Linked DNA regions of Homo sapiens: region 1 is linked to region 2. Evidence: fine-mapped expression QTL. A gene starts in region 2. The other region holds a variant in brackets. All regions are shown on one strand. Distances are from middle to middle.

Region 1 (2,915 bases), 34 kb after region 2:
ACAGCAGACACTACTCTCTTCCAGGTCTCTAAGCAACAGCCACACCGGACTTCATTCAGGATTCTTTGACCATGCCATAGCCTTTCCCTCTACAAGCCTTTTCCTGTTCTTTCTCAGCCTGGAATATTCCCCTTTCTCCTTCCAGTCCACCCTCTGACACACACACACCTGTGCACCATTCATCTAGCTAACACTTTAGGATCAGTCCTCAGCCAAAATGTCACTTTTGCGAAGGCTCTTCTTGCCTCCCAGACTAGGTTAGGCCCCCTGACATACATTCGTATGGCAGTTGGGACCTCTCACAGCACTCCCCACATTGATCATGAATTAATTCGCTTTGGTTATGGCTTGTTAATGTACATCCTCCTCACTCTGCTGTAAATACTGTAAGAGCAGGGCTGTTGTCTGTCTTGCTTATTCCTGGGTCTCAGCACTTAGTATGGAGCTTGGCATGTGGTAGGTACTCAATGCATTTGATGAATGAATGAATAAATGAACTTATGCACATTCTTTTTTTTTTTCTTTTTTTTTTGAGAAGGATTCTTGCACCGTCTCCCAGGCTGGAGTGCAGTGGGGCGATCTCGGCTTACTGCAACCTCTGCCTCCCAGATTCAAGTGATTCTCCTGCCTCAGCCTCCCGAGTAGCTGGGACTACAGGAGCATGCCATCACACCTGGCTATTTTTTTGTATTTTTAGTGGAAATGGGGTTTCACCATGTTGGCCAGGCTGGTCTTGAACTCCTGACCTCAAGTGATCCGCCCGCCTCGCCCTCCCAAAATCCTGAGATTACAGGCATAAGCCACCACGCCCGGCCTTATGTGCATTGCTATTTTCTGGTTTGTTCCTTTCTTTCTTTCTTTTTTCTTTTCTTTTTTTTTTGAGATGGCAGCTCAGGCTGGAGTGCAGTGGTGCAGTCATAGCTCACTGCAGCCTAGAACTCCTGGACTCAAGCGATCCTCCTGCCTCAGCTTCCTGAGTTGCTGGGATTACAGGCGTGAGCCACTGCACCTGGCCCCCTTTCCTTGCTTTAGATTTTTCTCTTTCATTGCAAAGCAGTACCCTCATTCCAGTATGAATAAAAACCCAGTTCTCGGATGTTTTACCAACCAAACTGTCTGCCTGATCTTGAGAAACTCTTCAGACACTGCCCAGCTCTCTGACCCACTCCTTTCCAAATAATTTTTGCAAAGTTTTTGTTTTTTTTTTTAACCAAGCCACTTTAAAAGCTAGGGGTACATCAAGGGATCAAATCAAAGTCCAAGGTGTGGTATCCAATTCCTCGGAATATTGATCAAAAAACGGGCATCCCCTTGGCTAGGGATTTCCCCACCACCAGGTGGAA[A/C]CCTTGTGTCTTTTCTCACCCCTCCTCTATCCCCTCGCAGTTTGCCACAGGGATGCCAAACGTAAAGTGTCCTTTTCTGACCCTTCTCCATGGAATGTACGTCTCTGGGGCAGCGTCTGTGTTTGGCTTCCGTCTAGCTCTGAGTGGATCAGGACTAACGGTTAAATCCTGGTATTTTTACATTTGAGCACCTGTGGGTTTTGAGCAATTGACTGTTACAGGTCGCTTGCTGGAAATGGTCAATGTGTTCATACCTGAAAAACTGAATTTTTATAGGACATTATTTAGAGATGATTTTGACAGTTTGTGTTAACTGACTTGTTCCATTTTCACTGATGTGCATCTGTAGGGACTTCTGGAAACCTGGAGGAGTAAGCTATCACAGGGACCTCAGAGGGTGGCTTGCCTGGAAGCTGAGCTGCCTCTGGTGGTGTTATCCCGGCAGGTCTGGCAGCCCTGGATTGACTCCCCCTAGCGGTTTCACAAAATATGTTATTTTGATAGAGCACCTTAAACTGCAGCTCCTAGCTCTAAATGTGTGGCTGTTAGAATCCTTCTACTACAAATTAGGGATGAAATTAGATGACCAGCCAGTGGGACCTCTGAGAAGAGAATGAAAAATAGGCTCATGCAGGAGAGGGCGTGGAAGGGCGGATAAGCTGTTTTGTCTGGAATTCCTGTCCCAGACAGGTTTGTCTGGGAATGGCCAGAAACTGAAATTCTGAGGATATCATCCTGCCCAAGTCCCAGAAGCAAAGGTGAGAACCAGGCACACCCTAAGGGCAAGCAGGAGGGAAGAAGAAAAGAAAGAAGAACGAGGGAAGAACAAGAAGAAAGAAAGAAGAAGGAGGAAGAGGAGGAGGAGAAGGGAGGGGGAGGAAGGGGAGGAGAAGGAGGGGAGGGAGAGGCGGAGAAAGGAAAGGAAGAAGTGGAAGAGGAAGAAGAAAGAAAGAAAGAAAGAAAGAAAGAAAGAAAGAAAGAAAGAAAGAAAGAAAGAAAGAAAGAAAAGAGAAGCAGGCAAGCAGTTTTCAAAGTTCTTTATCATCTTGCTAAGGTAGCTGAAGGATGCAGTCACAGGCCCGCATGCACAGGAGGGCTTTCCTGTTTGGGGCCAGTAGGTTTCTTGTTTTGCTGTGTTTCCTTTCTTTTTGTGCAGGACGTGACTTGGCCTCCGATCTAGACACATCGGTGTTTTTGTGAGTCATGTTCTAACAGGATTGTGCTGTGTTGAAATGACTGTTGTTTGGTGTGTCAGCCCAGATGCAGGTTTAGCACCACATTTCAAAGTGAATAAGAGCTGCTTTTAACTGTTTGTTCTTAATCCACCAACCTTTTGTGTTTTCTCATCAAAAGAGGGGTAGCTTGCCCTTTTTCTTTTGCCTTAAGCCCCAGAGAGACACCAAGTGAAGCCACGGTACCCCTTTTTTTCTTTAAGTAGCCCAATCACATAATATGCTGTAGGTTTCAAGAGAGTAAACTCTCCTCTGGTGCATAGAAATCTCAGTAAGTTCTCTGAGGCAGTAGTTGGTAGTCCTGGAGATTTTTCAGTTAAATCAGTGTTTATTTCAAAAA
Region 2 (2,915 bases):
CAATTCAGACTAGCCACATTTCAAGTACTCAGTTAACCACATGTGGCTAGTGGCTACCATATTGGACAGCACAGCTCTATACTACTCATACCTTTTCACATATTGTTCTTAATTTTTCTGAACAGTCTAATGTATTTTTGCATGAATCTAACCAGTGTGTTTAATCTCTATTGGATTCTTTTCCCATAAATTATTATATTAAAATATATGTCAGTTATATTTATACATTGCATGCTTGTGTATATTTAAATATATATTAAAATACCTCTGTGATTTGTATGGTCCATTTACATAGGCTGTCATTTATGAAATTGATCTAATTATCTTCTGTTGCATTGCTATAATGATTGTCCATTTACCTATTGGGCAACTGGGTAATTTTCTTTCTTTTTTTGGTGGTGGGGACACAGTCTTGCTATGTTGCCCAGGCTGGAGTGCAATGGTGCAATCTCAGCTCACTGCAACCTCCACCTCCTGGGTTCAAGTAATTGTCCTGCCTCAGCCTCCTGAGTAGCTGGGATTACAGGTGTGCACTGCCACACCTGGCTAATTTTTGTATTTTTAGTAGAGACAGGGTTTCACCATCTTGGCCAGGCTGGTCTTGAACTCCTGACCTCGTGATCCACCCACCTCAGCCTCCCAAAGTGCTGGGTTTACAGGCATGAGCCCCCGCGCCTGACCAAGCATCTGGGTAGTTTTCCATTGTTCTCTGTTATAAGTATTATTGCTATGAATGCCTTTTTAGAGTGGAGTTAATTTTTTTCTCTTTCTATCTTTCTCTCCTTTCCTCCTTTCCTATTCTACTGTTTCTTTTAGGATTACAGAAAGTGAGGTTGAGAAATCTTCCTTCCTCAGTTGGTCCAGGAAGGGAGTTTGTGTCCATATCTTTTCCACTATATAAGCCCTACCTAAAAACATCTACATTTTCTGTGACAAATTGAAGTTGGTTACCACGGCTGGACCCAAAGTAGTTAATCCATGAATGTGTAGAGAAAGAACAAAGGATGTCAATGGGGAAGCTTGAAAGTGTTAAGCAAACACCTTCTTTCATAAAGGCTTTTGCAGGAGAAAAGAAAATCCCCCTTCATTTTGAAGTCTAAGGAAGAGGATGTAGTAGCAAAATAGAAAACACATGCATGAATATGGATATAGTGTTCCACACAGCCCCAGTGACTCAAAGACAACAATGAAAAGATGATTATGGCTCCTATTACAAAGGTGATGAGCTGGATGTAATTAGGGATTAAATCTGAAATTCCCAGTACATACCCAGCGACTCAGGAACTTGACAAGCTGCCATCTCTCTGAGATCCCTGGAGGAGCAGTGTGGCCAGCTTACTGGGGGAGAGGCGTCTGGGGGACCTGCCCATAGCAAGCCACTCATCGGAGTGCTAATGCGCAGAGGGTCCTCTATGAGTGGACTGGAGTGGTGGTGTCTGCTCACTTTCCCTTTATTGTGTGTGCATCAGCTGGCATCCTGGCAGGGTGGTGACTTGTCAGGAAGAAGACAAGTTGCTAGGTAACAAGGGAGGATGAGGGAAGCCCCCTCCGTCTTCCTCAGAGAGAGAATACGAAGGGGCTCCAAGAAGGATTTGGATGTTAAAAAACAAAAACAAGTGCTACCCTAAGGAATAAAAGGGGACCTTTTTTTTTTTTTTTTTTTTTTTTGGAACAGGCTGGTTGGTAGAGGGAAGAGAATTGCTGTGAGTTAGAGGTGGAAGGGGAGGAAAGCAAAAGAAGGCATATGGCCAGAAAGCAAAAGAGGGAAAAGTATGAAAAAGAGAGGAGGAAGACTGTGGGAAAGAAAATTTCTTCACCAGCTATGGAAATGGCCCCACTGCAGGATGGTGTACTAGAGTCTCCATTAACTAAAGGGAATTCAGGGAGTTAAGATTGTCTGTGCAAAAAACATGCTAACGTCATTCTAAAGGTGTGGTTTCTAGACCAGCCCCAATTCATCTGGAAACTTGTTGAAAGTGTCATTCTGAAGCCCCATCCCAGGCCTCCTGCTTCAGAAACGTGTTTGTTTGTTTGTTTTTTGAGACAGAGTCTTGCTCTGTGGCCCAGGCTGGTAACCACATTGCAGTGGTGCGATCTTGGCTCACTGCAACCTCTGCCTCCTGGATTCAAGTGATTCTTCTGCCTTAGCCTCCAGAGTAGCTGGGATTACAGGTGCGTGCCACCATGCCGGCTAATTTTCATATTTTTAATTGAGATGGGGTCGTACCATGTTGGCCAGACTGGTTTCAAACTCCTGACCTCAAGTGATCCGCCTGCCTCGGCCTCCCAAAGTGCTGGGATTACAGGTGTGAGCCACCACGTCCATCCTCAGAAATGTGTTTTAACTAGCCCTCCAGGTTATGTAAAAACATGCTTTTTGAAATTTGAGGACCAATGCTACAAAGAAATGAGACAGATTTTGGAGGTGTAAGGAGGGGGACATCAAAGCAAAATTTTCTAATTAGTATTAGAAAAAAAATTACTTGCCTGGAAAAGTTAAACACGCAAGGAAGTTTATCCGAAGTTATTGCAACAGGAGAGAGGGACTAGAACTCAGTGTGAACTCAATGCTGCTGATGCAGAGGGTGCAAAGTTTTTAAAGGCTTTTAAAGGCTAGTGAAACATGCCAGAGGATGTTGTGAAGAGGTCGTAGGCCATTTGTGTTTGCTAATAAACTTCTATCTTTTGACAAGGGATGGTTTTATGACTTGGAGGAAGGTGTCCTGCTGAAGTTAGACTCCCACAAAAACTCTCCACAAAGACTGGGAGACAGGGGTGCCATCTCCTTTGATGATTACATTTCAAAGGGAGGGCTCCCAGGTCCTTGAGAAAGACATTCCTGGATTGTAAAACTGGCAGGAGGCTTTTGAAGAGATTTACATACATCTCAAAGGGGCAGAGAAAAAATGTACAAT

Alleles and levels. Alleles are on the strand shown, and positions count from the first base shown. SD is a standard deviation of normalised expression in the study named.
In carriers of allele C in region 1, the expression in esophagus mucosa of the gene that starts at base 1,423 in region 2 tends to be higher than with A alone (small effect, 0.17 SD a copy in GTEx).

Evidence for each region. PIP is the estimated chance that this variant, and not a neighbour inherited with it, causes the effect.
Region 1: its variant is fine-mapped to the expression of QKILA in esophagus mucosa (GTEx, PIP 0.99).

Annotation. Positions count from the first base shown.
Region 1 is chr4:139,655,386-139,658,300 of GRCh38, forward strand. No RefSeq gene overlaps it. Among named protein-coding and RNA genes, the nearest start is that of MGST2, 9.0 kb to the right of the region's middle. The variant A/C (reference allele first, on the strand shown) is at 1,344.
Region 2 is chr4:139,621,832-139,624,746 of GRCh38, forward strand. It overlaps QKILA (QKI interacting lncRNA), which reads right to left and starts at 1,423. Exons shown (of 2, transcript NR_187398.1): 1 at 1,270-1,423.